2 separate regions of the Homo sapiens genome follow, and region 1 is linked to region 2. The links come from fine-mapping of genetic effects on gene expression. A gene starts in region 2. The other region holds a variant in brackets. All regions are shown on one strand. Distances are from middle to middle.

Region 1 (4,406 bases), 38 kb before region 2:
AACTCCATGCTTACCTCCAGACCTATCTACCCAAGTATCTACTAGATATCTCTACTCAAATTCAACAAGCCCAAAACTAATCCACCGTCTGTCTTCTAAAACCAAACCTTCCTCCTATAATCCTTCACCTTGGTAATTAATACCACCATTTACTAAGTTGTTCATATGAGAAATGTGACTCAAGACTTTTCCTTCTCATATTCCTACAATATCTAATTCGTCATTAAGTTTTATCTGTTCTTTTTTTAATTATTTCTTAGAACTATCCAGTTGTGTTTTGGTAAATGAGCAACCCATTCTCTGAGAGAGGGAGAGGTGGGTGACACTTGATGGTTTTCATGGTGTGACTGATCCTCCCACCACAACTGATTTTGATGCAGGATATTTTCTTGACCCCTTCACGGAACTCGCGGCAGGGGTGCCTTGTTTACTCAGCCCGCCCTGCTCAATCCCTTGCAGGAGGGAGTGCGCAAGCGAATGACTGCAGGAACCTGAGCGAGCGAAGGCAGGAACTGGCCACTTTGGCACCAGCAGGAGCAAACTCCATGTGGGCCCCTCACCAGCGTCCAGGTGTGGGCACCAGCCACGCCAAGCCCCAGAGGGCGTGTAACCATACTCTTAGCTCCACCGTCCGCAGACAGCAGTGTGTTATCAGCTCAGTGAGCCCTTTGCCTCATCACGTAGGGCAACTGCCTTCCGCCAGCAAGGGCAAAGGGCCAGTGCGACCGCCTTTTTGGATACCTGCACGTAGTGTGTCCGAGTTCTTGTCCAGTGCCCAAGAGGAATGAGGTCACACAGATGAATTGAAGGATGGCGAATGTGGAGAATTTTTTTTTTCAGTGACGAAAGCGGCTCTCAGTGGAGAGGTGAGCTGGAAAGGGAATGGGAAGGGAAGATCCCTCTCCTCTGAAGTCAAGCCACCTCTCTCCTATGTCCAGGCGCTTCTTCTCGACATCAGGCTGCTTCTTCCCTCTGCTGGCTGAGTTCTGGGGTCTTTATGGGCACAGGATGGGGACGGGGCAGGCCGTAGGTAGTTTTGGAAAAGGCAATATTCAATTGGTAAAAAGACAGTATTCAGAAATAACCAATCGGGAGAGAATGGAAGTTCTCACTTTGGGCTGTGGGTTTCAGGCTTTTCGGCTTGAAGGTGGGATTTTGCCAGCGACCCGCCCCTGTATGCCTACAGTTTCTCTGCCTCCTGTTGCTATCAATTTTAAGCTACCAACATGACGCCACTGAACAGAATCGGGAAGAGACATGCGGAACACATATTATATAGTATTTCCACCAACAGATATAATAGATGTAAATAACCTCAAAAGAGTAGATAATAGTAAAATAATTATGAAGTGATGAGTTTCTACTATTTTCTTTGCTTTTAACATAATTAAATTATACATGTATGTAATTTAATTTTTAATTGATGACTTTAACAACCAACTCAAAAAAGTCTTGAAATGTAACAAACAGCTCTCACAAACCAGTACAGGTTGGATCTATCCCTCTTTTCTCCACTCCTAAGACCACAGCCCAAATGTAAGGCTCTGACCACCTCACCTTGATGTTACAATTGTCTCTCACAGGTCATGCTACTGGTCTGTCCTCCACACAGCTGTCACACATACAAATCTGGTTATATCATCACCCCTGTCCACACATGTGTGCACACACACAGACATACACACATGCGTGCACACACAGACACTTACAATAATTCTTTGGGTCCCTATAGCTCTATGGCTGGAATTTTTAATTCCTTGTTTAATGCACTATGACTTTTACAATATGGCTATCTGCTTACTTTTGAGCCTTATCTACCCCAGCCCACTTCCCCTATTGACAGCCTAGAGACCCAAATATTAACATCCTAGAGACTCGATGCTTCTGCAACTTCACCCATGCTGCTGCCTGCCACCCTCTAGAGTACATCTAGCTGTGTGAGAACATCCTTCATACAGCTAACTACTGTTTATTAGTTTTCAAACCTCAGATCAAGAATTACCTTCTCTGGAGGTCATCTCTATACAGTAGTTAAGAACACTGTAGTTAAGAACACAGACAGACCTGATATCAAACAGAAGTGTTAAATATCTGCTGTGCCACTTCCTAGCTGTGTAACCCTGAACAAGTTACTTAATCTTTATGCCCGAGTTTCCTTACTAGTGAAATGATTACAATAATGTGCTTACCTGATAGAACTGTTCAGAAGGTTTAAAGAATATGTGTGTGCAAA[G/T]CTCTTAGAATAGTGCCTAGAACTTAAGTACTTTGGATGTAGTAAAGTTAGCTATTATCAACTACCTAATTTAAAAATGCCTCCTATCTCTCTTTCCATTGCATTATGTACATAATCATCACATTACACTATATGATTTTATATAAATATATTATATATTTATAGATACATTATTAGTATATACATATATAGATACGTGTATATAATACATATATAGATACATGTATATAAGTATATAGATTATATATGTACACATATAGTATACATTTAGCCCTCAACCTGTGGGATCTGACACTATCTCCAGGTGCACATACATAGTATATACACATATGTATACTATATATATATATATATACTTATATACATGTATCTATATATGTATATATTTATCTATATACGTATCTACATTACATACATATATGTATCTATACACACACACACACACACACACACACACACACATATGTTTCATCCACGGTTCCTGTCTCATAATTCCCATAGACCTTTTTATAATGTTATAATGTTGGTGCATTTTAGGCCTCATAAGCGGACCTCAGAATAACAGGATTTCTCTCTCTCTAATCTTCTATTTTTTTACCTGCTACTTTTTCTCCCCAAGGCAGGACTCTAATCTTCCTCTGCCTTTACCTACCTTGTGTGATTGTAGGTCATAAGACCCCCATTTCAGAAGGGGTTCTGCCCCATATTCTGGAGGAAGGAATGTTGCATGGAGAGGCCAAGAAGAGGCCCAGCACAGTGATCCATGTCTGTAATCTCAGCACTTTTGGAGGCCAAGATGGGACAATCGTTTGAGCCCAGGAGTTCAAGACCATCCTGGGCAACATAGGAAGATCCTGTCTCTACAGAAAAAAAAAAAATTAATTACCCAAGTGTGGTGGCAATCACCTGTAACCTCAACTACTTGGGAGGTTGAGGTGGGAGCATGCTTGGGCCCAGGAGGTCAAAATCACGCCACTGCACTCCAGCCTCACAGTCAGAGTGAGACCCACCTCAAAGGAAAAAAAAAAGAGGCCAAAAAGAATCTGAACAGATGGGCCTTACCGGGTTTCCCCACTCAGCCTTTGAGTACTAAAGCATACCCTTTTTGTCTAAACACATTTCTATGTGGTTGTCAATGGTGCCTATCCTTTCATGAAGTCTCCATAAAAGGCCCAAGGGGACGAGGTTTGAAGAAATTACAAGATAACTGAACCTATGGAGGTTCCTAGAGGGTGTGTTCCGGGGAGGGCTTGGCAGCTCTGTGCCCCTTCCCCCATACCTCACCCTTTGCATCTCTTCACTTGTATCTTTTTGTAATATCCTTTATTATAAACCAGTAAATCTAAGTAGGTGTTTCCCTGAGTTCTGTGATGCACTCTAGCAAATTAATCGAACCCCAAGAGGGAGTCATGGAAGCCCAACTTGAAACCAGTCAGCCAGAAGTTCTGGAGGCCTGATCTTGTGACTGGTATCTGGGAAAGGGAAGATGTCTTGTGAGACTGAGCCCTCAACCTATGGGATCTGACGCTATCTCCAGGTACACAGTGTCAGAATTCATTTGGAGGACACTCAGCTGGTGCCTGCTGCAGAGTTGATTGCTTGCATGTTGATGACAAAAAATCTCCCACATTTGGTCACAGAAGTCTTCTGTGTTGATTGTAGCGTGGTGTGAGACCACAGGAAAAGCAGTTAGAGATTTTCCACACCCAGAAACTCTTAAGAGAGAAACTATGTGTCCTTGTGCTTAGGCAGTGTCTAGTAAGTACTCAATGAATGAATTTAAAAAAAATGGATTAGTGATGCAAGTTCTGGCCAACTGGACATTCTTTCCTTTTGATTCATTCAGCTACATTTAGATTTAGGGAAATGAAGGGAACTTGTGAGATCATGTGAGATCATGCGGACAGATTAAAAGGGAAATATTTTCTCAAATTTAATTAGTTATGCATGTTGCTGCAACAAACAAAAAGAAATGAGCCTTATGATGCAAAACACGTTTGATAATTCTTACTCCCCTTTTAAGTTGTACCATTTGTAAGAAAATAGGGTAGCATTCCATGTGCCTAATTCCACTGTTATGTGTGATGAATGTCGGAAATACTCCTGGCATTAAAAGGAGCCTAAATGTGTGGCCAGAATGGACTTTAATGTTCCACTGGACAATTTTTCTGAC
Region 2 (4,406 bases):
TATTTAGCAAAATGTTAGCATGTATGACAAGACAATGAGAGTAATTGCTTGACAACAACCTATGCACCAGGTATTTAACATTAACTTTGGAAACAAAAATGTACAATTAAGTAAAGTCAACATATGCAAAATACTGTACATTGTGAACAGAAGTTTAATTCATAGTAATTTCACTCTCTGCATTGACTTATGAGATAATTAATGATTAAACTATTAATGATAAAAATAATGCATTTGTATTGTTCATAATATCATGTGCACTTCAAGAAAATGGAATGCTACTCTTTTGTGGTTTACGTGTATTATTTTCAATATCTTAATACCCTAATAAAGAGTCCATAAAAATCCAAATGCTTATGCAAGTGTATTTCCAGTTATTATTTAGACAATCAAATGTAAAAGATCAACCCAAGACTCACACTTCATGTCAAATTATAATTGTGCTTCCTAAACCCTACTACCTTAAGTGTGTGTGTGTGTGTGTGGTTGAGAAAAAAGTGTGAGACATCTCTTACAGGAAACAAATACTCAGTGGCAAGATAAGAGGTGCTCATTAATGTCCTTCATCATTATGTAAGTTTAAACAGAAAAAAACTAATATCAAGTGCTTTTTTACCAAATTTGATATAAAATGTAGAACAAGCTGGGTGCAGAGGCTCACACCTGTAATCTCAACACTTTGGGAAGCCAAGTCGGGAGGATTCCTTGAGCTCAAGATTTCAAGACCAGCCTAGGCAACATGGAGAGACCCTGTCTCTATGAAAACTTAAAAAAATAGCCAGGGGTGGTGGCATGTACCTGTGATCCCAGCTACTTGGTGGACTTAGGTAGGAGAATTACTCGAGCCCAGCAGGTCGAGGCTGCAGTGAGCTATTGTGCCACTGCACTCCAGCCTGGGTGACAGGGCAAGGCCCTGTCTCAAAAAATAAATAAATGAAAATAAAATGTGAAAGATTATGCACTGCTTGATCCAATTAATTCTAACTTTTTGTGCAGTTGAGCATGTGTGCTGGGGAAGAGGGCGGCCCTGCAAAAATTTCACATAATCATTGCCTCACAATAAAGAAAATGTAATGGTAAAACAGGTAGAGGGCCATAAAGCGTCTTGATGTCCAATGTAGAAAGAGATTAAATATTATTAATGTAAATTGATAGCGAAAAACCTGTCATAAGCAAAAATTTGTCTTTTTATTTGCGCTCTTCTTTGGTAACTATTACAGTAAAAGCTAGATCACAAAAATATGACATTATAATATAGTTTTCCAAGTTCTGAAGTAAGGCAATAAAAGGACATGTCACTCACTTTATTTGACTATTTGAAAGAAAATGGTTTTTTACATATTTTTCTAGCTGAAATGAAAGATATCAATACAATTATCTTTTACTATTTTTTCAAATAATCAAAAATGTGTTGTTGTTGTTGTTGTTGTTACAAACCTTATCTGTGATAGTCACTGAGAGAACATGCCCCTAGGAATTTTATCTGAAAGATATTTACAGAATAGTTTATTTTTTTATCAGAATAATCTTCTCTGAGTATTTCAAAATTTCATTCGTTATCTCTTTCATAGCTCAATAAATTACTTATTCTTTTTTTTTTTTTTTTTGAGATGGAGTCTTGCTCTGTCACCCAGGCTGGAGTGCAGTGGCACAATCTCAGCTCACTGCAACCTCTGCCTCCTGGGTTCAAGAGATTCTCCTGCCTCAACCTCCTCAGTAGCTGGGATTACAGGCGTGCGCCACCACGCCCAGCTAATTTTTGTATTTTTAGTAGAGACGAGGTTTCACCATGTTGGTCAGGCTGGTCTCGAACTCCTGACCTCGTGATCCGCCCACCTCGGCCTCCCAAAGTGCTGGGATTACAGGCGTGAGCCACCACACCTGGCCAATTACCTTAACTAGAACCATATCATACTATGTCCTTTCTAAAAAATTAAGTTCAATTTGATTAATCAAAATCGAATTAAGTATTATTTGTAACTTTTTCCAACTACAGAAATAATTTTAGGAACTATTCCAAATTTCAGAACGTTTTTATATGAAGCTGAAAAGGTCTTAGCTAATTACAAACTAGGTTGCTGGGAACAGTGAAGTTGTATTCAGAGGTATTAATTAGGCCTAAATTATCTTTTACCCTCAGACAACTTTCAAAAATATTTTAGAATAGTGAAAAGTGATTTTAACACCAAGGTAAGGAAACCACCTCAATATCTACTAAAAAATTTTGTTTGAAAATAATATTCATTTTGAAATGAAAAATATTTAATAAGAGAAAATCTCAAACCTTAAATTTCTGTATCATTTAAGGCTCTTACATGTACAGCTAGCTCATCTATTATAGAGGCACGTTAATATTCTTGGTGGTCACAATTTTTAATTGTGGGTTGTTTGTGATAAAGACATACTCTAATCCCAACCTAAGAGATTATTTTCTCAGTTATTTTCTCAGTAATCAGTCTGTAAGTCTACCTCTGTGTAATTGAGATATTTTGGAAGTTGGAGCTCCTGGTGTGAAAGCAATTATTCAGTTTAGCTTTGAATTTTGTGACTCATATTGCCCATAACCATAAAGGCATTAGTAACATGGCTTAAATACTAGATGGGCATAGAGATTCTAGGTGATCACACTGCTCCTTGAATTTGTTGCTCCAAGGGCCACTGAAGCAAAGGTAATTGAAGAGATATATAGTATAATTTGGACTGATTCTAATGCACTAGATAAAAGAATGTAACATATTCTTGTATTGGGTAATTTAATGATTTCTAACAGGTCCACTTCTAATAAGAAGAAAGAAATTAGTGTTTGAATCCAGAAAGAAGAAAAATACAAAGAAAAAACATGAAAAAGGAAAAGGGAAATAAGTTGCCTAAATTCAGGCAAAGTAGCACTAAGATTGAAATCAGAGTTGGGTTTTAGATATATATAACAGATGAAGTGTGATTTATAGATATAACTTGCCTCAAATGCTGGAGATAAGTCTTAATAATAACATGATAAAGTTGTTTTTCTTTCAAAATCCAATTCCAGAATACAGTGATTTGGTTTGAAACTCACAAGGTAAGTTAATTTGAATTAAGTGCGATTTTTAAAACATAAAAATGTCTCCTTTCAGAACCAATGGACCAATAAAAGGCCAGTTGATTTCCTTTATTGAATCTGAATTTACTCATATTGTGCTGATTTTCTACCAACCCATTACATCTTACAAAATTTTTCCCATACAATTTCCTTCCCGAGAACTATAACTGGCAATAACAGCAACCAGACTATATGAAGGCCTGGTAAGTCTCACAGAGGTACAAGCTTCAGGTGGATTTATTTGTGTATTACATAAAAACTTTCCTCTCATTTTAGCCAGTAGTGATCAATTACTAATAATAAGCATGATGTAACACTGGTGTTTAAAGATTTGTGAGTAGAATTGAGCACAGTGGCTCACACCTGTAATCCCAGCACTTTGGAAGGCTGTGGTGGGAAGGTTGATTGAGGCCAGAAGTTCAAGACCATCCTTGCAACAGGGGGGCAACATAGCAAGACCCCATCTCTAAGAAAATTTTTTTAAAATTAGCCAAGTGTGGTGGTGCACACCTGTAGTCCTAGCTCCTTGGGAGACTGAGGCAGAAGGATCACTTGAGCCCAGCAGTTCGAGGGTACAGGAGGCTATGATTGTGCCACTGCACTCCAGCCTGAGTGACAGAGCAAGACCCTGTCTCAAAAAAAAAAAAAAAAAAAAAAAAGATTTGTGTGTAGAGATCACAAACGCAACTTCAGGGACCAAACATGTACAGTGTATAGGCCGAACTGTAACTTTATAAGAAAGTAGAAAGTAATGGGCTATGTTGGGAGCTAAACAGTGCATGTCTTGTCTAAGGAATTCAAAGCTTTTAAAAACACTCTTGTAGGCTTACAAAACCTATGTTTGGAGGCAGGATTTATCTTGACCACTATTTCAACACCTCTAAATAGGAATAGGACTTACATAGAAAAAAACTCGAAATGATCTCCTACCCCTTCAATTCCAGGCTCGACCTTTAGAATGAAATTTCTCATCTTGGCTGGCCTTTTGAGCACTGCCACTGCTCTGCCCATCCCCGTGAGTACACCCTCCTCAGCTGCTGACTCAATTTCAGATTTAGAGTCATCGCATTTCTCGGCTAGAAAGCAGGTCTTATCTTTTCATTTCACAAAAGAGGAAAGCGGAACCCAGGAAAGTCATAGAACTAGGAGTTCACCACTCTTTGTCAGTCCAAGACTCTGCCCAGTACAAATCTCAGCTCCATATGCCATGTGCTAGCTGTGTGACTTTGAACTAACCCATGGTTTCCTTGTCTATAAAATGAGTCCTAGGAACACCTCAGAGTTGCACGGAGATGATTTTTTTAATGCATCTAAGGCAGAGAAGGGT

Direction of the effects. Alleles are on the strand shown, and positions count from the first base shown. SD is a standard deviation of normalised expression in the study named.
For the expression in aorta of the gene that starts at base 2,636 in region 2, allele T in region 1 goes with a lower level than allele G (small effect, 0.31 SD a copy in GTEx).

Evidence for each region. PIP is the estimated chance that this variant, and not a neighbour inherited with it, causes the effect. A credible set is the group of variants that fine-mapping cannot tell apart.
Region 1: its variant is the best candidate, but not a certain one, in a credible set for the expression of SCPPPQ1 in aorta (GTEx, PIP 0.67).

What each region holds. Positions count from the first base shown.
Region 1 is chr4:87,507,072-87,511,477 of GRCh38, reverse strand. The region is part of intron 1 of SPARCL1 (SPARC like 1); the gene reads left to right. Among named protein-coding and RNA genes, the nearest start is that of SPARCL1, 20 kb to the left of the region's middle. RefSeq lists an enhancer at 93-593. The variant G/T (reference allele first, on the strand shown) is at 2,234.
Region 2 is chr4:87,469,280-87,473,685 of GRCh38, reverse strand. SCPPPQ1 (secretory calcium-binding phosphoprotein proline-glutamine rich 1) reads left to right here and starts at 2,636. Exons shown (of 10, transcript NM_001405228.1): 1 at 2,636-2,669; 2 at 3,029-3,058; 3 at 4,024-4,094. The coding sequence starts at 4,038. It overlaps SPARCL1 (SPARC like 1), which reads left to right. Exons shown (of 11, transcript NM_004684.6): 11 at 1-351.